Linked DNA regions of Homo sapiens: regions 2 and 3 are each linked to region 1. The links come from fine-mapping of genetic effects on plasma protein levels. A gene starts in region 1. Each other region holds a variant in brackets. All regions are shown on one strand. Distances are from middle to middle. Region 1 holds the start of SRPX (sushi repeat containing protein X-linked). Region 2 overlaps SRPX (sushi repeat containing protein X-linked). Region 3 overlaps SRPX (sushi repeat containing protein X-linked).

The links. PIP is the chance, under the fine-mapping model, that this variant and not a neighbour inherited with it causes the effect. Protein levels are from antibody-based Olink assays in UK Biobank. Linkage for the fine-mapping came from a reference panel and not from the study's own genotypes, which makes the PIPs less certain.
Region 2: its variant is fine-mapped to the plasma level of the SRPX protein (UK Biobank, PIP above 0.99).
Region 3: its variant is fine-mapped to the plasma level of the SRPX protein (UK Biobank, PIP above 0.99).

The regions. Positions count from the first base shown.
Region 1 is chrX:38,216,938-38,225,227 of GRCh38, forward strand. SRPX (sushi repeat containing protein X-linked) reads right to left here and starts at 3,934. Exons shown (of 10, transcript NM_006307.5): 1 at 3,759-3,934. The coding sequence starts at 3,855. LOC124905176 (a long non-coding RNA gene) reads left to right here and starts at 3,971. Exons shown (of 2, transcript XR_007068212.1): 1 at 3,971-4,862; 2 at 6,485-6,755.
Region 2 is chrX:38,154,693-38,160,832 of GRCh38, forward strand. It overlaps SRPX (sushi repeat containing protein X-linked), which reads right to left. Exons shown (of 10, transcript NM_006307.5): 7 at 5,325-5,504; 8 at 2,204-2,337. Among named protein-coding and RNA genes, the nearest start is that of SRPX, 63 kb to the right of the region's middle. The variant A/T (reference allele first, on the strand shown) is at 3,526.
Region 3 is chrX:38,174,123-38,182,412 of GRCh38, forward strand. It overlaps SRPX (sushi repeat containing protein X-linked), which reads right to left. Exons shown (of 10, transcript NM_006307.5): 2 at 4,163-4,222; 3 at 38-229. Among named protein-coding and RNA genes, the nearest start is that of SRPX, 43 kb to the right of the region's middle. The variant A/G (reference allele first, on the strand shown) is at 3,573.

The DNA.
Region 1 (8,290 bases):
ACAGAGAGTGTTCGTATATTTAAAAGGAACCTCTGTATCCAGTAAGCCATCGTTTCTATGTATGTAGATTCATGGTGGCACAAAGCCCTGTGTACCTGTGCACATGTTTCCCTCAGCTCCTTTCCTGTCCAATGGCCCATCACTGGAGTTACAGGCACTGTTAATCCATTACGCACAAATATCCATGTGGCACAAAGTGCTCTGCTAGGCACCGTGGGAAATACAAATAAGGGTAAGACATAGCACGGCCCCTGCCTCCAAGGTCTTAAAATCTACAAGAAGAAGAGTGCATAAATTATGATAATATACAGCATTATCAAATATGTGATATATGTGATAAATATAAGAGACATGAGTGAGACCATGGGTGTTAAAAGGAAGGCACGTTGCTTCCCATTGGAGCGATCAAGAAAAGGTCTCATCAAAGTGGGGGTGTTGCTGGATGATGGGCAGAATTTGGACAAATGGCAAGGGGGAAGGATTCCAGGTACAGAAAGCAGCATCTGCCAAGAAGGAAAATGTGACTCAGGTTCTATAAGGATAGGATTTTAGGAAACCAGGGGGAAAAGACTGGAAAATTAGGCTAGAAGCAAACTGTGTAGCCCCCTAAAAACAACTGAGAACTTTTTACTTGAGTGAGAACAGGGACCTGCTGCCCTAAGTTTTTGAGTAAGGGAGTGATGTGATAAAAAACAGTACTAAAGTCAATGGACTTAAAAGACCATTATCTAAAGTGAGAAAGTAAAATGAGCTAGAATTAGAGAGACCAAAAGTGAGAATGTTATAGCAATAATCTAAAAGAGAAAAGCAGCACTTTGGTTATGGTACGAGGACTGATGAGGTGGGAAGATGTGAAGACGCTGCTTTAACAATGGTTTCTGGTGTCTCATTCAGCTCCCAAATCTGCGAAATGAGTAGTAACTAACAAACAACATTGTACTGTACTGAAAGTGTTATCAATGAAGAAAATGCCAGAGGAAAATGACCTGCTCTCCCCAGCATATTTCCTTTTCATTGCAGAGTACTTTTGTCAGCTGATTACATGTTTTAAATCTAAATAGGAATTCCTAGCCTGTTCCCGGTGACACCTTAATTATATAACCTGAGCTAGGTGCTCCATTCCTAGTACTTATCTCCAAATGTGGTATTTCAAAAGACTGCTTCAGCTGATGTAGTCTGGTTTGGCTTTTAGCAAACCTCACTTGGTTTTCCTGACTAGTAAAACCACGCTACTTTACCAGTTTTCTCCAGATGTAAGATTCACGAAGCCTTTCTTAGAGGCCATGGTACTCATTCTCCATCTTCAGCCTTGTTTGCAGAAGGAGGCAGAGTGAACCACCACTATCTCACATGCAAATACAGCTCTAAGAATTATTTTAAGAACAGAATCTAAATTCTCATCTGTTATAAGCATACAAACACAGTCAAACACAAACAACTTTTCTACAAATTTTCCATACACTTCATGTAGGTTTTTATAGACACTGCATCTTTGCTAGGCTGCAAAAAATAGATCAGAGAGCCAGAAAAGCTGCATTAAATTCTAAGATGGAAGAACTCCAGAGACCTTCTAGGAGTGGGAATGAGAATGATTTACTCTCACTCTGACAGATGTGCTATTCACGTGCAGATAGTTACATAATCGACTTGCTGATGGAGCCCTAGATCTCCATCTTCTTTCAGAAGTTCCAGATTCAAGTCCTTCACTTTCTCTCTTACTGAAGATATGATGTCCACTTGCTAAGAGAGTGTCTCTGAAATGATCTTTAAAATTTGTCACCCAGCACTTAGAGTGAACTCAGCCTATGTGATTTGCTTTCAGACCCAAGGGCCTAGAGATTTTCCCCTCCCCAGCCTTCCAAAGCCTCTGGCTTGGACTGAAATCCCCTCCTCTGGATCTCACAACCTCAGCGGAGCACACTTCCCAAGAGACCCCATTGAGCCATGCCAAAAGGAGGCTCAAGAGGAGTGTTTATCAAGCAGCTCCAATCAGCTTCAGCTCATTTGTGGTCTGAGCAGAGCCGGAGGGCAGGTTAGGAGTCAGTGGAGGTGGTGGCAAGCAGGAACATGGTGGCTAAAAGTTGGGAGCAGCTTGCAGGCTGGCAGAGGGAGCCAGGAAAGCCAGGGATAGGTCCCAAAAGACAGGTGGTAGTGAATGCCCAAACTGGCGAACTCATGATTCTGTGGCTGGGCCCTGGTAGCAAGCTGTACTATATAAAGGTGGAAGATGAGAGAAAGGAGAGGGGAGGGCAGGGGAGGAGAACGGAGGGAGGTCGGATGGAAAAGGAGAAGGGGTCCCCAGCTTGAGAAAGGCTCAACTAAAAGTTGAGGTTCCCAGGCAGCTCACAGGCACCTCCCAACTCAGTGCGGAAAAGCTACCTCTAGCTTCTCACCTTATTTGCCCGCTCCCAGAAAGCTGCTTCTGGGACGCTTAATGACTTCCTCTTCCCCTACAGGTTCATTTTAACCTGATTCCTGCTAAAGGGGGTGGGAGAGGAGGTATTAACACACCATGGGAATAACAGTTGCCTGGCAGTAAGGATAAAATTTCCTTTCCACTTTACCCTGAATCAGTTCCTACAAAGCAGCTTAAAACTTAAGAGTCAGCTCAAAACACAAATGTTCCTGTTTATTAATTTACAAATTTGTTCTATTCATTCATTTATTTAGGTGCGTGCAGAGAATTTCCCGCAGCCATCCCTACATCTCCCAAGCACACTGCTAGAAAGATGGGCATCCTCTATCCTTCTACCAGAACTCAGTAGGTTCATTTCTCATACCCTAGATTTAAGCTGCCCACGGTGTTGAACGCAGAGCCAAATATTTGCACGCCCTATAGCCGACGTCACCCACTTTCCCATTAACACTAAATTAAAACGCATCCATGGATTTCCTCTCCATTCCGAGGCAACAGGAGTGCATGGCACATTGCCCTACTCCCCTGAAGCTCTTCGCTAACCTAAGACTCCAGGGTGAGGAAGTTAGCTGGAGCTTTTTAAAGTGCATCTCCAAAGAGAATTTTGCTCACACCATGAGAGCCCCCAAGAAACACCAGGGCCCCCTTAGATGCCGGAGACCACGCCCTCCAGGAATAAGCCGCACCCTCTGCCCAGCAGATCCTTGCGCGAGTAGCCCTCTTTCCCTGGGGCTAATCAAGTGCATGCCACATGTCACCACTCTCAGCTGGCAATTCTTCCTCAGAGGCGCAGACTTTCTCGGAATCCCCAGCAGGGGGGGTTAAGAGATTCAGGGGAGGCCCCGCCCGTGCCTTCCACAAAAGTCGCTTTACCGTGGCTCGTGTCCTGCGGCCCCAAGGGGGTAGCCTGGGACGTGTAGTGGGAGGGCATAGAGGCTCCTTCCAGGACAAGCTGCCAGCCTCCAGTGGGCAACCATGTGAGAGGCAAAATTCTGGGGGTGAGAAAGTAGCAAACTAGTCTGCGGCCAAACTTTCTCTGTGGAGCCTCCTACACCGAAAAGGGTTTGATTGGAACTCTGGAAGCCCGGACGCAGAAGGTGCTAGGGCTCCCGTCGCCGCGAGGGCGCCCCGCGCCTGGAGATGGGATGGTCAGTTCTTCCCGGCGCGTGCCCAGACACCAGCCCCGATCCGCATCATCCCCACCCTCGGGCTGCGAAAGAGGAGTTCTGCGCAAACAAAGGGCGCCCCCGGCACCTCCCTCTATCCCGAGCGAAGGGTCCCAACGGCGACTCCGGGGGTCTTTGGTGCCCAGCTGAGGAGGCAGCCACGCCTCCGATCCTACCTGGGAAGCTGCGGCTGGGCGGGACGCGCAGCAGCAGCAGCAGCAGCAGAGGCGGCAGCAGCAGCAGCAGCGCGGGCCGATGTGCGGGGCTCCCCATGGCGAGCGGGCGCTTAGCTCGCCTCGGCAGCGCAGCGCGCTTCCCGGGGGCGGCAGGAGACCGAAGAGACCAAGGGACTGCGTGCTAGCGGGCGGGCGAAGGCCGGGCTGGAAAACTCCTCCTCTCGCCTCTTTCCCTCCCTCCTTCCTGCCTGGGGCCTGCCCTCCTTTCTCCGCCCCCCCTGGAACACTGCGCGGTTCGGGGCTCTGACCCACCCACCTCCTCCTTTTGTGCCAGCGCTTTTTCTGGCCAGAGAGCGCTGGAGACAAGCCCCAGCAGAGCGAAATATCCTGAAGTAGCTTTCTTTGCCCCAATTTGCGCGCCCCCTCACCCGGAATACACACACGGTATTCAATACAACCGCCTCGAACATCCCAGACGTCTAGAAGGATACCATCTGTGCAGAAAGCTGCGTGAGTCACACGGAAACAGAAGGGGCAACCGAGGGGATTCAGAGTGGCCCACTGCGGCCGGATACTATGGCCATGTTCTCTGTTTTGATCCTCACGACCATGCCCCAAGTTCGCTATTACCATGTCCACTTTCTCCAATAAGACACCGACGCTTAGAAACTTGCCCAGATTCACCCCCGTTACTGGCAGAGCAGGGACTGGAACTTAGGTGTGTAGTTCTGCCGACGTCAAAGTCCATACTACAGATTTTTTGTTAGTTTGTTTCTCTTTTGCAAAGGAATAAATCAAGGACTGGACCGGGTGCGTGCCTGCTCTGCTGCGGTTTAGGATGGGGCTTGAGGTTCTCCTTCCAGGATCAGCTGATGGGAGAGCACAAGGCACAGAAAGTTCTCTGTCTCACCCACAGCCATGGGGATCCAGCTGTAGGTTCCTGCAGCCAGATTTCCTCATTTCCTGGGTTGTTCTCAACCACCCCAAAGATACCACGACCAGACTGGAGCCTCTTCCCTGTGGCTTGGCATCGCTGGATCCTGGCATCAGGACAGGGTTTCTAGGCTGCCCGCAGGACGGATCTGGTTTCTTTGAGGCATTTGAGTAAGCCTCTCATAGTTTTGTTTGTTTGTTTGTTGTTTTGGTTGTTTAGTTCTTGTTAAATCAGTAAGGCAATACGTTGCCCCTTTGCTGTCTCAGAAAGATCTTAGCTAAGGCAAATTTTAGTTGGAGTTGCTGCATTAGGTTGTGCAGTTTGGGCACTGTACAAAGGCATCCAGAGGAAGGGGCAAGTGGGAGCCAAAATCCAAATGCCTTTGGGTTCAGGGAGCTTTGCGTCTTGGCAGGGGCCACATCCACTAGAAGGGCATCTTTCTCTCTGCCACAGTAGTCTGGTCTGATAGCTAGGCTAAGAGCCCTGGGGGCACTCACCTAGAAGTTCTGAATTTGTTTATCCAGAAGGAGTGCCATTTCCCAATTCTCACAAAAGCCCCAGACTTGAACGTCCATCTTACCCTCTCTAGCACTTGGGGGGACTTCGCTCCATCTCCTGTGGGTTTCTCCACTGCTGCTACCTCTTCAGGGAACCAACAACCCTTAAATAACCCCCTAGTCGCAAGGAAATGGGGGAGGTCAGTCTATTCTGTGGCCTCCATCAGACCAGACTTTCCAGGGAGTCATTCTCAACCTTGTTTATGTGGGTCACCTGGGGAGCTTCATGAAAATACCATATCCAGGCTCTACCTCACACTAATAAAATCAGAATCTTTAGGAATGTGACCTGGAGTTTGACCAGATGCATATTTTTGTCTCTCCCCAATCCGCTAAGCTCCACGGTATAAGTTTTAGTATAGGATAAAAATTCTAGACCAGGAGTTTCTCAACTTGGGCACTATTGATATTTGGGGCTAGATGATTCTTTCTTGGGGAGGGGGACTGCCTTGCACGTTGAGAGATGCATCGATGGCCTCTATGCAACAGATACCACTAGCAATCCCCCTTTCCCCAGTTATGGCAGCCAAAAAAATGTCTCCAGACATTGCCAAATGTCCCCCAGGGGAAAAATGCCCCCAATAGAGAACTACTTCTTTAGGTCTGTAAACAAGGGTTAATGTGCACCCCAAATTCCAGGTCCAGGATAGCCTGGCCAGCAGCCTTCCTTTCCTATGTCACCTCTGAAGCAATGTGTCTTCACCACAACCAGTATACATTCTATTACTGGGCTGAGAAGGAACTTCTAGCTCACTTCTATCCACTGATTCTGGCTGGATTACAAGAAACACCACACTTACTGTTGACTTGCTCTCTGGCCTTTGAATGTCCTCACCACAAAGAAAGAAATCAGAAATGGATGAGGTGATGGTCACGCAAAATACTGACTTGACGCTTGGTGCAGTGGCTCATGATTGTAATCCCAGCACTTTGGGAGGCCAAGGTAGGCGGATCACTTGAGGTCAAGAGTTTGAGACCAGCCTGGCCAATATAGTGAAACCCCATCTCTACTAAAAATACAAAAATTAGCCGGGAGTGGTGGCACACACCTGTAGTCCCAGCTACTCGGGAGGCCAAGGCAGGAGAATCACTTGAACCTGGGAGGCAGAGGTTGTGCCACTGCACTCCAGACTGGGCAACAGAGCTAGACTCCATCTCAAAAAAAAAAATACTGACTTGATTTTTTCTTTTTCTTTTTCTTTTCTTTCTTTCTTTTTTTTTTTTTTCTTTGACAGGGTCTTATTCTGAATTTGAATTTGTTTATCCAGAAGGAGTGCTGTTTCCTGGCTGGAGTGCAGTGGCATGATCATAGCTCATTGCAGCCTCAAACACCTGTGCTCAAGCAATTCTCCTGCCTCAGCTTCCTGAGTAGCTAGGACTACAAGCATGTGCCACCATGGCCAGCTAAGTGTTTTTTGTAGATATGGGGGTCCCATAAATATGTACATTTACAATGTGTCCATTAAAAAAATAAACAAAAATAAAAGACTTGAAGAAACATCTCTATATAATGTTTACAGAGAAAAATAACATTTGTTGTTTTCATTGTGCAAGGATATCTTGAAGGACAGATCCAAGTTCAGTTGCCTCTTGTATCAATAAATCGAAATAACCCTTTCATTTTTACCTAACAAAGATAAAGGGGAGAGAACAAGGTGGTATTCTTACCTAGTGGGAATACTAAAAGGAATGCCATTGTTGTCAAAATGTATAAGGTATATAAATCACGTGGGTTAGAGTAATAGGGAACACAATTAGATATAATATTGGGAAACCATTATTTTTCCTTGACAAGCTTGAAGTATTCGATATAAACCCTTGGAAGAACTAATATGAACATGAAAAAATAAAATAAGAGCCTGGAATGAGGAAAAAAAGTCTCTTGCTCTCTTTTCTACCCTATAGAGAAAATTCCAATGGGACTTTTATTTTTCTTATTATTTTTATTCCAGTTTTCTCTCTGATAGAAGAGATGAGGGTAGAGGTAAGGTAGAGGAAGAGGTTGTCAATTCATCCCAATCCCACAATATCTTGGAAGACAATCAGATAGTTAAATAGATTCATAATCTGTCAAATAACTTAAGGGTTAATGAGTTGATGAAAACAAAGAGAAGTCACTCAGGGAGTGCCACAGAGCTATGACACCATTCCTATCCTGCTTGATGTTACTATTTATGAACTAGAAAAAGATATTTTTGGCAAAGGACATGAAGATAGGAGGGCAAGAAACAGATTCCAAACATCTCTCTAGGCAGGCATGCTGTATTGAAACATTAAAAGACAGCAAGGATAAATATGATGTCCTATGTTAGATCTCAAAAACCAATCACACATGAAGAATCTAAGAATCACTAGAAAGCCAAGTAGTCTCCCCACTGCATCAGGCTCATCTGTGCAAAGAAGTGTTTATAAGGTTTTATTCAGCATTGCTCATAGTAACAAAAGGTTGGTGACATTTTTGTAAATGTAAATATCCATTAATGGGGAATTATTTTATTAATTATGCATACCTATGTAACGAAATACTATGTGGCCATTAAAAAGAATGAACAAGATGCATATGCATCAGTAGGAAAGGTAGTCTCACATATTTTGTTTAATGAAATAACAAGCAAAATAATACACATATCTTGCTACCATTTGTGGTATGGGGAAGGCATGATACTGTATCAGGGTATGGGGAAGTCAGTAGGAGAAATAATTTTTTATTACTGTACAATCCTTTGTACTGTTTAAATATGTAAGCATGTAATGATATTTCTTATTTAAATTAAACAGATCATTGAAAATGTTTTCTTAAAAAAAAAAATCACACCGATACAGAGTAGGAGTTGCCAGTAGTGGCTTCACAGTACAACCTACGACAGTGCAATCTATTTGCCTATAAGCTAAGTCTCCAAGGCACCTCAGGTGCATGCAGACAGTGTCTGTCTTGTCATCTGAAGCATTCCTGAGTACTGGGCAAAGTACCAGAGGTGAGAAGAAGAGAACACAGACATCAAAGTCTGGCAGGAGGAGGGAGGTATCTTTCCACTCTGTGC
Region 2 (6,140 bases), 63 kb before region 1:
TGCTCACTCTGAACTGTCCTGAAAACAGATGAGAAATTGGGGTTAAGATAGTGGCTATAAAACCTAAATACCTTTGCTAGAGGAATCATTCAGATATGGCTTGACAGTGGGATTTTGAAAACCTAAGCAAAAGGGCAGTCTATGTATTTCCAGACAGGGTGAGACCTTGAGTGAGTCAAATTTCCTAAAAAGTATCCAAGACCACCCCAGAGGATTCTAATTTTTCTTTGCAAGGAGAGAAGACTATTTCCAGAGTCCACTTCTCTGCCCTGTTTCCACTCTCCACACTCCCCTGCCCTATGCCCTCCACACCCAATCCCAGGGGAAAAGAGGATAAAAGGTTCCAAGCCTCTAAGCTGGCTCTTGGCAAGAACCTTGGGAATGTGGCCCAGTCAACCACGAGGAGGGCTCATCAGGAATGGCAATGGCAATAAAAAAAAAAAAAGTAATGTAAGACAAATATGATGAATTTGGCTAAATGGGAAAAGAAATTTTGAAGTCTTGAAAGACGAAAACATCAAATATGTTTTACCAAAATTCCACTGAAACGTCCCTATATGAGGTTACAGAACTGGTTGAAAAGTTTAAAAAGTTAGAAATAGACTTTTGTATTACTCTCACTGAAATGCCTAAGTCAATCAAACCTTTCTTTGAAGGCTCTGGTTAAAATGCAAATGTAAGTATATTTGGAGGAGGAGGGCACACCAAAACATCTTGATATAAAATATCTTATCCAACCAGTTGTTAAGTTAGCAAGTGTCTGAAGGGATGGGACAGACTAGAGCAACGATGGCAATCTTTCTCTGTAAAGGGCCAGAGAGTACTTCAGGCTTGGCAAGGTTGGATTGCCTCTGTCCTAACCACTTCACCCATCATTGTAGTGCAAAAGCAGTTGTAGATCATGCACAAATGAATTAGTGTGGCTGTGTCCAATAAAAGTTAATTTACCGAAACTAGCCATGGGTCACCATAGTTTGCTGACACAGAGGAAAAGCAAGTTGTTTGGCTTAATTCATTTTCCTATGGAATAAGAAGAGATGAGGAAATGCATGATCATGGAATATAGCCTGCAATGCCAGTTTCCCACAAAAGACAGAGGTATAAGCTTGTGTTTTCTGAAGAGCAAGCCCCTGGCTTGGACAAGGAGATACAAGGGGAGGTAAGCTGGTGGGGACCAGGGGTAAAGATGCAATGAATTTGGTTCCTATCAAGGGAACTCACAAAAATTTTATATGGCTCTTCAGAGTTCATAGGCAATTCTTCAAGTACGTGGGAAGAGTGAAAAGAGACTTATTATTATCCATTTTATTAATGCTGATATGAGAAGTAAATTGTAGCCTTTGATTAAATCAATACTGTTCTAAGCACTTAGTTCTATCCACTGTAATAAATGAATAAAATAGTCTCAAAAAAATGTGCAGCACTGTATCCATGGCACAGCATACATCCTGCCTCTTTAGTATTCAGTGAAGTTGGCCACTCTTTTGCAAACCAGCCTCAGGACAAAAGCAAGCAATTTCTAGTTTGATCCTTACAGTTTCTAGTCAGCCTTCCCCACACACCCAAGATGTTGGTTGCCTCATTTAGTAGCTACAAAATTTACATAGCTGAGAAGGACACATTTCCCAGAAAAGTGACCCTCAAACTTTAGAGTGCTTAGGAATCACCTGGAGATTTTGTTAAAAGTGTAGATTCTGACACAGTAGGTCTGGGAGGGGCCCTGAGAATTGGCATGTCTATCAAGCTCCCAGGTGATGCTGATGCTTCTGGTCCGGTCCATGGATCACACGTTGAGAACCACTTTTCTAAGAAAAAATGGCTGTCACCCTCTGAGTCAAAGAAATTCCCTGGGGAAAAATGTGGGCAGGCAACCAATTGATTGCTTCCAGCCAGGCATATCCTGGACAGGTTTGGCAAAGACAATTGTTCTGTGGCTAGGCCTGGACAGCATGTCAATTAGACTTATTGGTGAAGACAGACAAACCTCATTAGTTGGAAAACGATTGGGTTAACTCTAAGGAGTCAATGTTAATCAGGTTATGGCCCAGAACCAGAAATGAATGGTGGTAGCTCTAAAGTGCCACTTCCTGAAACTCACTGTAAGTGCATTAGGCACTGAATCTGGCCTTTGCTTTTAGTGAAATGGCTGGGCCCTTCCTGTTAAAGGTCTCCCTCTCACCTTGGCCCTGCCTCGAGGACTCACCTGCAGCATTCCTAGCTGGAGCCGGTAAAGGAGGTTTCGGGCTGTGGGTGTGGACACAATGAGGAGTCTCCTTTTCTCATAAAACTGATCCAGAAGTGCAGCTGCCGTTCTGACACCCACATTGACGTTCATGGCTGTAATCAGAAATGGCCACATGGGTCAGAAACCTTCCACTTGTTCTGGCTCAACAGAGCCTATGATGACACACAGAACCATTTGTGTAAGAAGTAAACCCTGAGATAAGGATTCAAGTGTAAACAGTTTATTTGGGAGGCAGTCCCAAGAAGCGCCTGTGGAGGAGTACGGAAGTATATTCACTTCCTCTTGCTGCTGTAACAAATCACCATAAACTTAGTGACTTAACATAATACAAACTTATTCTTTTAGATACTGCAGGTCAGGATCTAAAAGATCCTGGTCTCATGGAGCTAAAATCAAGGTGTTGGCAGGGCTATGCTCCCATGGAGGTTCTAGGGGAGAATCTGATTTCTTGTCTTTTTCAGCATCGAGAGGCCACATTCATTCCTTGGCTAGTAGTCCCTTCCTCCATCTTCAAAGACAGCAGTGTAGCATCTTCAAATCTCTCTTCTCTCTGACCTCTCCTTCCATCGTCTCTTTCTATGACTCTGACATCAGTTCTGCCTCCTTTATATAAGAAGGCTTGTGATTACATTGGGCCCACTGGGTAATTCAGGATACTCTTCCCATTTCAAAATCCTTAACTTATTACATCTGTAAAGTCCCTTTTTTCATGTAAGGTAACATATTCTCAGGTTCCAGGGACTAGGATGTGGACATCTTTGGTGGACCATTATTCTGTCTATGTCAGGAAGTGAGACAGTGAAGGAAAGAAAACAATACCAATTGGTTATCAAGCAAGTTTTTGCTGTGGGCATTTGGAACTCACTCCCACTGGGGAACTCTAGGAGATGATATACAACATACCTCCAGAATTAACCCACTGGAGGGAACTGGAGTATTTATACAATTGCTCCATCATTGCTGAGGGCTGCTTCTGGGGCACTAACTCTCCATCACTTCCAGCTGGCTCTGTGCATGGGCTGACAATGCTTTCATAGCCAGGAAAGAAATGCTCTCAGACAGACAGACCCAGTTAATTGCAGTAAGTAGCCTTTTGAACACAGATGGGAATGTGAAAGGCATATGGGCCAAGCACCATAGTATCTGCTGGGGAAAGGGGTGCAGAGAGGCAGAAGGGTAAGAGAATGGGCAGTGGCCAGGCTGGCTTTGGAATGGCTCAGAATCTCTGAAGTCTGCCTCCTTGGTGCAGAAGGGACAAAGCAATGTGGGGCACAAAGGCC[A/T]CAGAGCAAACAACACAGGCAAACAGGACATGGGACAAGGCGGTTTTATAATAGGTCTTCCCTTTAAGCAAATAAATGACAACTAATTCCAGCTGTTCAAGGTCAATGAAGGATGTCGTATAGATAGGCAAGCAAAAGGCTTAGCCCCAGAGAAGAAATAATAAGAGAAAAACTAGTAGATGCCATGTATGATTTATAATCTTGGTTTTCATATTTCACATTTTAGGTTTGCATTGAAGTATTTGTTCATTCACACATTCATTCATTCAGCCATTATATACTGAGTGCCTGCCATGTGCCAAGCTCTATGCTAGGTACTAGGATGTCACACTGAGTGATACACAGTTCCTGCCCTCTTTCCTGCCCTCTTCCCTGCCCCAGGGACTCAGAGTCTAGGATAGCTCTGGTCAAGAGAAATACAATGTAAGCCACTATATTTAATCTTAAATTTTCTAGTTGCCTCATTAAAAAAGTGTAAAGAGACCGGGCGCAGTGTCTCACATCTGTAATCCCAGCACTTTGGGAGGCCGAGGCGTGCAGATCACGAGGTCAGGAGATCAAGACCATCCTGGCTAACATGGTGAAACCCCGTCTTTACTAAAAATACAAAAAATTAGCCAGGCGTGGTGGCAGGCACCTGTAGTCCCAGCTGCTCGGGAGGCTGGGGCAGGAGAATCACTGGAACCCGGGAGGCAGAGGTTGCAGTGAACCGAGATCGCGCCACTGCACTCTAGCCTGGGTGACAGAGAGAGACTACATCTCAAACAAACAAACAAACAAACAAATAAAAAATATAAAGAGATAGGTAGAAATGATTTTATGTTTTATCTAACCCAATATATCCAAAATATTTCATTTCAACATGTAATCAATATAAAAAATTAAGATACTTTATATTCTTTTTCACACTAAGATTTTGAAATTGGTATATATTTTACACTTATAGCATATCTCAATTCAGAATAGCCTCATAGGTGGTGGGCATGAAGTCCTTAGGTAGGGAGTCTATAATAGGTGTGTTCTTTCTACTTTAATACATGAAATTGAAGAATCTCAGGCATTTAGCTGATGGTATATATGTCTCTCTGTCACTTAACTCTAAATGGGGGCTTCAATTAAAAGAAAGTGATAAAGATGAAAGGGTGCCAGGAAATGAGAAAAAGAGAAGTCTATAAACAAGAGATACATACATAATTTTCTGGCTAGTCCAAGTTTCAGACTCATTACCCAGCCCAATTTTTCTTCATCAGGAATAAGAGCTGGCATAAGGCTTTGCCTGTACCAGGCACTGCTCTATTCCACTGTTCCACAGATGACCTCATTTAATCCTTACAACTCAAGAGGTAGATGAGGTATTATTTTCTTCATTTTACATAGGAGGAAAGATTCCAAATGCCCAAAGTCTATGTAACTTTCATGCCAGTGATGCAAAGCAGGTATGATATTGTCTCTACATGGCAATTTACTAGCTTTATAAATAAGATCCTTACATTTCTAGAACAAAGGAAACTAGAGCAAATTTTGCTGATTCATAATGTCACCAAAGGCTGGCCCTAGGTTCCTACCTTGAGCTTCTTCCTTAGAGGACATGAAAAGGAAATTAGAGGATAGGCAGGGGCAAGATGGATGGCAGATGAGATGAGCTGCAGCAGGGATCTAGGGACTATGTTCATCCACTCAGATAAAGAGGGATGGCCATGAACTTCTCAAAGTATATGAAGGGAAACCTCTCTTGCACTGGAATCAAGAACCAAGGGGTTTACAGGTTCTGCTGCAGGCTGGAGGGGCGGCATACCTACCTGCACAGGTGGGCTCCGTGCCAGACCAAGCCAGGTTGGATTGACATACTCGGGCAGGGCTACCCTGGAGCTCATAGCCGCCGATGCAGGAGAACTCACAGGTGGCTCCATAATTATCACCGTCGCTGGAGCACTTCATGTAACCATTCTCTGGGGCATTGAGTTTGCCACAGCGTTTGACTGTAGGGACACAAGTCCAGAGGGGTCTCAGTGCTGAGCTCCCATCCACAGAGTAAGCAGAAAAGGTGAGGATGCAGAGGCATCAGCTTTGCAATCAGGCTTCTACATCAGCCTGTGAAATGAGTGAGGGAGGAGGGATGACTATTTGGTCAGTGAGTGAGTCTTGCAATGGTCACCATCCATACCAATGAGACCACTGATATCAACTGGTTTCGCCCCTAGTGTTATAGATGAGGAAGTGAAGTCCAGAAGAGTAAGGAGTAAAGATGGTTAGCAATTAGTTGCCCAAACCATCAGGCATAAAATAATCCTTAAAAACATTTTCTTTCATACCAATGGTACTAGAACACTAAAAACATGTTCTCCTGGTGGCCCAAATTAGGGGGCTCCTATTCACCCTGGTTGTAGATGGACTCACAGGCTTCAGCTGGCCACCTAAGCTCAGGGATGGAAAAATTATTGAATAATATTCTTCTAGGACAGTCAGCTATGGGATCCTGTAAGACTAGTCCTGGGAACTCCTTAAATAATCTGGCAACACTGACGCCCATCCGGATGTGTATCGTGAAATTCAGGCATTAAGATAGGGCACTTCCCCAAGCCTTATTAGAGACTAATCTAAAGCTGGCAAGTCTC
Region 3 (8,290 bases), 43 kb before region 1:
CATCCCTGAGGACCCAACACAGAGCTGGCCTACTCACGTTTGCAGATGACCTTGTCAGACCATCGTTTGTTTGACTGGCAGATCAGTAGGGAAGAGCCATGCAGCTCGTAGCCCTTCTGGCAGCGAATGTCGCACCTGGTTCCCAGGGCTGTTTTGTAGTATCCTCCTTGAGGGGCCCTGCAGTACACATCCCCATACTTCACCTTGATGGGGGAGCACCACGGGGTATCTACAAGTAGCAGAAACAAAAGAGGAGATAAATATGAAATGACACTTTCAGAAAATGTGTCCCCTTACTCTTACTGTCCCAGGCTGGCTACATTCCAAATTTTGGACCTTCAATTAGTGCCCCATGTTTTCTTAGGTGTCTCCGGGTAGGGAGGTTATGATCATGGGACTAAGTGTCAGATATATCTGAACATGAATCTGAGTTCCTCTATAACTGACTGTGTGATCTTAGACAAGTTAGCTAACCTCTCTGAGTCAATATCTATACTTATGCCATAGTGCTGTTACAAGGACGAAATAAAAATTGCATATCAAGCATCTAGCACAGTACCTAGCATATATGTTCAATAAATGCTTGTTCTTTTTAGTATTTCCCTTAACTAGATACATAAGATTTTTTATTTTTATTTTTTAGATAATTCTTTCAAGGGCAACTGATGTCATACATAGCGGTAGGGATTCAATAATTGGTTAATTTGGATTTCGTCTGAGCCGTATGCACATTCTCTCTAAAATGTTGTAATACTGGCATTAATCTAAATGATGCTACAATTTCCAGGTGTTTGTAACAAGATATAAATTTCGCTTAAAGTCACAGAACAATTGCTCTCCATAGAGAAGTGTCCCCAGTTATGCCCCATTTACGTAACAGGGTGACACCCTCCCCAGATGGCAAAGTTGCAGGTGTTTTGATTTTGGTCTCATAGTTGCCCAAAGCACAGCTGGGATGAAATGAATAAATCAGAACCTCCCTGCTGTGCTTTTGAAATGTTCTCTTTGAGATCCATAAAATATAAGGGCAACACTAGCTCCTTGGTGGATAAGTTCCTACAGCAGCCACTGCCCCATTGTCCCACAATTGATGGGGAACAGTGAGGAGTTCCCTAAAGCCTGCCGGGCTCTCAATGCCATGAATAGGAGCCACTTCCCTGCAACTGCCTGGCTCATCACTCCAACCCAGCACCTGAGCTGTCAGTGAGTGAGGTAAGACCGCCATCATGTGGCCAGGAAGGAGGACAGACCCTGTTTTACTTTCCCAGGAATTCTCTTCTGAGGATATGCCTCCAACTGCTTCTCAGTTACAAAAACCAACAGTTCTGGCCACGTCTTATGCATAGACCACTGTTTTAGTTTTGCCTTCACATTTCCTTCAGCTAATACTTTCTCTTTTTTTTTTCTTTTTTAGAAACAGGGTCTCACTCTGTCACCCAGGCTGGAGTGTAGTGGCATGATCATTGCTCACTGCAGTCTCGGCCTCCTAGGCTCAAGTGATCCTCCTGTCTCAGCTTCCCAAGTAGCTGGAACTACAGGCACGCACCACCGTCCCTGGTCTGGCTAATACTTTCGTCATATCATGTTTTGCAGACAGCTGCAAGTGAGCCCTAAACTCAAGACTCAAGTAATCTTCCCTGGACTTTCTAGGTAAAGGTGATGTCCTAAAGGCTTAACCTAGAGCTGATTAAATTTAACCATGTGGATATAAACGTGTAGGAGCTCACACAAGGCCTAAAGAACTTCCTTGAATAAATTTTCCTTCCTCTAAGGGTTTTAATATAATCTGTATGTACTACATATATTTGTGATATACAGTACTCCCCCTTTGCCCACGGGGGATATTGGATGCCTGAAGCCTTGGATAGTACCTAACGCTATATATACTGTTTGTTTCTTACACAAACATACCTATGATGAAGTTTAATTTATAAATTAGGCATGATAAAAGATTAACAACAACTAATAATAATATAGAACAATTATAACAATATACTGTAATGAAAGTTAGGTGAATGTACTGTCTCTCTCTCAAAATATCTAATATTTTGGGGCTGCGGTTGACTGAAGGTAAATGGAACCTTGGAAAGTGAAACCGCAGATAAGGGGGAACTAATGTATGTATATATATGACCTGCATACTCATACATCACAAACTCACTCAATTAATATGAATATATGATGGTATTCCAAGCAAAAGAATCAAAAGCCATGCTTGCCACATACCAGGAGCACCGTAAATGTTGGTTACATTTAATTTTCTTTCTTATTTTACTTTAATTCAAAAACACTTACTCTGTGCTGGACATTGTGCAGGGGCCTCAGGATCTAAAACTAAACCCTCACTTAATAATGGCTTGTCTCTAGCTTTTAAAATTAAAAAAACTTGGCCAGGTGCAGTGGCTCACGCCTGTAATCCCAGCACTTTGGGAGGCCAAGGTGGGTGGATCACCTGAGGTTAGGAGTTCGAGACCAGCCTGGCCAACATAGTGAAACCCCTGTCTGTACTAAAAATGCAACATTAGCTGGGTGTGGTGGCGTGTGCCTGTAGTCCCAGCTACCTGGGAGGCTAAGATAGGAGAATCGCTTGAACCTGGGAGGCGGATGTTACAGTGAGCCAAGATCACGCCACTGCACTACAGCCTGGGTGACAGGGTGAGACTCCATCTCAAAAAATAATAATAAAAATAAATAAAACTTAAATTTTATTGTATGAAGCGCACAACATGATGCTTTGATATACTTATACATACTGAAATGATTGCTACCAGTAAGCAATTTAACTGACAATAGAAACAATGCCCTAAGAAAATTTATTCTTAAACATTCAGGGTAAGTTCTAGGGCAAGCACACATTTTGGCCATCTGGTCTACCTGTCACATTTGCAATGCTGTGAGGTGAAGATGGATGTGAAGAACAAGGACCTGAGGGCACTAGGCAACCCCTGCTGTAGATGTGAAGGGTCATCTGTGCATGCATGTGTTTTAGGAAGATTTTTCAACAAGGGACTCAAAGAAAAAAAAATCTAAACCCATAAATAGTTAAGAAGTTTTGCGAATTAGAACCTTTCCTTACCCCAAGCATCTGATTAACGTATTTGTGCTTTGCTTGATTGGTTAATTCCTGAGGCTATGGAGATAGAAACTATAGGTAGGAATGAGTATTTGCATTCAGATCTCACAAAAAAATGTGGTATGTGATGGGAAGCACACCTGCACATAAGCACCAGGCACCAGTCATTATATTGGAAATATTGTTCACTTGTGTAGAAAACAACTGAAGGACATCTCCAGTCAAAAGTTGTCCAGTCCTACCCTGATTCTCCTGTATCTGAGACACATCACAACAAACAAGGGCCATGTCCTCATCCCAGGAATTAGGACAAATTTCCAGGGCAAAATGCCGCAGTGAAACTTTGTTAACCATTTTTTTTTTTTTTTCAAATTCTTCCTCCACTGTAAGAGGAACTAGATTCAGAGAGAAAGCATCTCTAAATTTACCTTCATTTCTCCCAGGTTTCCCTAAGCTTCAGAGAAATGTTTCACCAGTAGAAATATTTGTGGACATACTT[A/G]CCTGAGTCTGGACAGAAGGTTCTTGTTTAGGCTTTTTATACGTGCTGGGGAGTGGATTGCTGGGAATATGTAGAGATGGAGTTCTTTATCATTAAGTTTCATTTGAGCAACATACTTTAACATACCGTTTCAGAAGCCATGCTGGGCTCAGAAAGAGCACGATGAAATGAGCTTATGAAAATCAAGTTTTCTCCTTCCCCATTCATCTTAGTACATTATCAGCACTTGGTCCAGATTTGACCTTAGGTGGTTTACTCTGGATGATTCTGGCTGTAATGTATGAATTAGGCTTGATTTTCACTTTCATCAGCTACAGCTGCCTTTGCAGAAGTGAGGACAGTAAAGAAACTTATGAGAATAAAATGACCATTGGGATGCTGAAAGACAGCATTTCAGAGATTTCCAATGCATTTTGCTTTATTTCCTTTTTTAAAAAAGGGAGTATATATATATATTTTTTTTTCCTTGATAGATAATTAGAACTTAAATGTGTTGTCTGGTCACTTTATTACAATCTGTTTCACAAGGCAAAAAGGAAAGTTCTCCTGGCACCAGCAGGTCCTCATTAGCACATAAGCAAAGCATTCACCTTTATATCTAGGGTGTGAATACCCGACTTCATCGTCTTCTAGTGGTGAGTCTCCCGATCCTACAATAAAAAAGAACAGAAACTGCAGCAAGAAAAGCCACATAGTATGGACGCATATTTCAAAGCATTCCTTTGCCACAGACCATGCAGGAGGTGCTATTAGAATGCAGAGCCAAGAGCAAAAGCTTCTGTGGCCATTCATGAAGGAACAAACAGGAGATCTCTCAGAGTGAAACCGGCTGAGCTGAGATTGCCAAAAACCAAGCAAAATGAGCCTCAAACTGTTTTGGAATCACCATATGCCAAGTGAAATTCTGGAATAGGGAAACAGAGAGAGTCAACTTCACTCTGAGAAGATGCCAATGTATATGAATCTCATGCCAGGGGAGATGCAATAAAATGTGTGCATCAGACACAGTCCACAGTTTCCCCAGCAGTCAAAGAAAACCCAGTAGAACTGGGTGTTTATGGTACCTGAAAACAGGTCCATCTTGTGAAATAAATTTAAATGCAAGATAAGGAGGTAAATCAAATGTCTTATCTTGACAAAAGAAACACAAAGTTGCTTCTATATACAGCATTTGTAGGAAATGAAGGCTGAAATAGACTATCTGTGTGCTTATTTAGAACCTCTCATGAACGTATGGCTCAAGTAAAATTTCTTTTTTTTTTTTTTTTTTTGAGACGGAGTCTCACTCTGTTGCTAGGCTGGAGTGCAATGGTGTGATTTTGGCTCACCGCAACCTCCGCCTCTTGGGTTCAAGGGATTCTCCTGCCTCGGCCTCCTGAATAGCTGGAATTACAGGCATGTGCCACCATGCCTGGCTAATTTTGTATTTTTAGTAGAGACGGGATTTCTCCATGTTGGTCAGGCTGGTCGCGAACTCCCGACCTCAGATGATCTGCCCGCCTCGGCCTCACAAAGTGCTGGGATTACAGGCGTGAGCCACCGTGCCCAGCCAGTAAAATTTCTTAATGAGCGTTGCTACCAATAAAAACCACGGCCTCAGAGAGAACGTCTGTGTATTATTTTAATTTAACTCATTTGCAAGCTGGAGCTGAATGGTTTTTAAAATATTAAATATTGAATTCCAGTGAGCAGTAAATCCTTAATCCTTGAAGTGGTAGCAGATGCCAAACTTCAAAACTGTAATCTTAAATTCAGAGAACTTCCCTCCAGACTTCACAGTCTAATTAATGACTCGAGTTAGCTCTGTCTTGGTCACGCATTTAGTTGTAGTTACTTGCCACCATAACAGACAAGAACATCCTCCACTGTGAGGTTATTCAAATCCCCATGCAGCTAATGAGTAATGGTCCCTGTTCCACTTGTGTTCTGGATGAGAGATGTAGAGTGTGGAAACTGAAAGTGGAGAGGAGATGAGGGCTGGACTGTGTTCATTAGGAAAAGACCCGCAACTACAGAAGCCCAATTCTGTATTTTCCTTTGCTGCAGATTTCCTCACCTTGTCTCTGCACACCCAGATGTGTACAAAATTACAAACTATTCATCATTGCATATAAAAAAATGAGCACTGGAACCAGACACAGTGGCTCATGCCTGTAATCTCAGAAACTAGGGAGGCTGAGTGGGAGAATTACTTGAGCCCAGGAGTTCAAAAAACAGCCTGGATAACATAGTGAGAACCCATCTCAAAAACAAAACAAAACAAAAAACAATGAAAACCAGGAAACCTACCTAACAACATGAATCAAAGGCCTATGCTCAAACCCTTTGATCAAGTCATTCCACTTCTAGGAATCTACCCAAGGAAACAGTTGAACTGCATGTCTGCATGTGAACCTTCAATCATCCAAATTAAAAAAAAATCCAGATACATGAGCAGCAAGCTTTCTCCCCCCGCCCAGCCCTCCAACACACATATACACACATACATATATTTTGCCCTCGGTTGTCATCCTGGTTAACTTGTCTACAGTATTTACAGCATTTAGTATGAATGACTACCCATTCATTTCATGAAGCTCTCTTCTGCAGTGGCTTCCAAATGACAACAGTTTCCCGATTTTCTTCCTCCTTTCTAAACAGACTCTCTGGACAGCACATCTAGATCAGCCTGCCATTTGGACATAAGTATTTCCCAGGAGTCCAGTATTGGTCCTTTACATATCTCCAGACTATTTTCCTGGGCCATCTCACTCCCATACTTGCCTCAAACCATTCCCCATGTACTGATGATAAATCCATTGTTTCTAGCCTTGAACTGTCTCCTAAGAGCCAAGCTAGAATCTTCAACTGTTGTCTGGATATCTCCACACTCACACTCAACCTGCTCAAAACCAGATTCCTTTTCTTATCACCAAATTTGTGCATCCCCCAGTGTTTCCCATTTCAGCAAATAACCATCTTCCAGCTACTCTGCCACATGGAAAATCTCAGCCTTTTTTTCTTCTATCTTCTTCATCTACCACATTCTAAGATAGGAATTAACTTAAATATCCAACTACAAGAAATGGTCAATCATATTATGATCCATTCATAACATAATAATGTTCATTTTGAAGAGGTTTCTTAACATGGGAAAATATTATAGAATGCTGAATGAATAAAGAAAGAAGCATAACCCCCAAAATGCAAAAATGCATTAAGATTTTAAAATATGGCAAAGCTCATGTGTGAGAACAACAATATGGATGAATAAAACTAAAATAATATTGTGAGCAAAGTTGGTCCCAGAAGACTATATACTATATATACGACTCCTTTTTTATAAAGTTCAAAAACTTCTAACACTAAATTGTTGGGAAATACAAAGATATGTACGGTAATTTTTAACAAAGCAAGGAGACCTCTTACCCTTTCCTAATCTTCTCTTCTTGAACAACTGAGTTCTAAGGCCTTTAGAGCAAGGCAGACATCTGTACCAGAAAGGACAGGGAGGCATGGTAGGCCAGAGCAGGATGTCAGAGCCCAAACAGGGCATAGAGGGAAAACAGGGGCAAAGAGAGAATGCACATGGGCAGATAGCCCAGCAGGGGAATCACAGATTAGTAAGATAAGGAGGGCTTTCACATGGGTAAGGCGGAAGAAAGCCTGGCATTGGGTTGAAAAGTACAGTTTCTAGATTCCCTTATCCCTAGGTTGTGAAAGGGTCTACTTTTAGTGATTTGGAAGGAATCAAAGGGAAGGAACTCTTTTCTACAGTTGTGCATGCAGAAAATAGGCTACAGCAGATGTGAGTGTTGTCAACTGTGTCCACTGTCCCCTCATCAGCTTTGTGTGGTAGGGAGGATAGTGACGTTGGCAGTGGTGATAATCACGGCAGCAACAGTTTCCTAGCCTGAGTGATAGGAGGAGTTTCTGGCATCTGGACTGAAGTCATGGTGCCATTTGACCTTTAATGCAGACTTCTTGACTTCCATTGCTCCAGCCCTTCCAATTTTGTGAGTACCTTATTTCCTGCATTAAATCATTTTTTGCATAAAATACCTAGAGAGGATTCTGTTTCCTATATTAAACCTAACAGATATTTAAGCAAACCAATTAAGAAATGAATATATGGTTTTATAGCTTTCTCTTAGTAACTGGACACTACCCTAACACAGGGCACACTGCTTTCTACCCACAAGTCTTTTGTAGATAAGAGAGGGGACTTTTATGTGAACATAGATGAGTAAGGAGGAAAAAAGAAAAAAAAAACCTACTGGAGTCAAACTTACTCTTTTTCCGAATTGGTCTATCTGCTAAGCTAAATGCAATCTGATTTCTGTGCAATTGAATTCACATGGGAAAGGAAATAACACACACTAAGTGCCTATGATATGTGTACTATGCTAGGCAATTTCTATGCACTATCTCATTAAATCTATACAATAACACTGGCCATTTGGTACTATTTTAGATTTATCATTAGGGAAACCAAGTCTCTAACGTCTTTACTTGTCCAAGGTTATGCAGCCAGTAAATGGTAAATCAGGGATTCGAATCCTGTCTGCCTGGCCTTCAAATCTATCATTCTTTTTTCACTAGGCCTTACTGCCTTCTGCGCCTACAATTTCAAAGAAATGAGATAGCTGGCTTTGGGATCACTGATAGGCAAACAGCAAATGGCTTCTTCAGTAGTGTGAGAACAAATATGCCAAGAGTGGGTCCCACAGAAGCAAAAT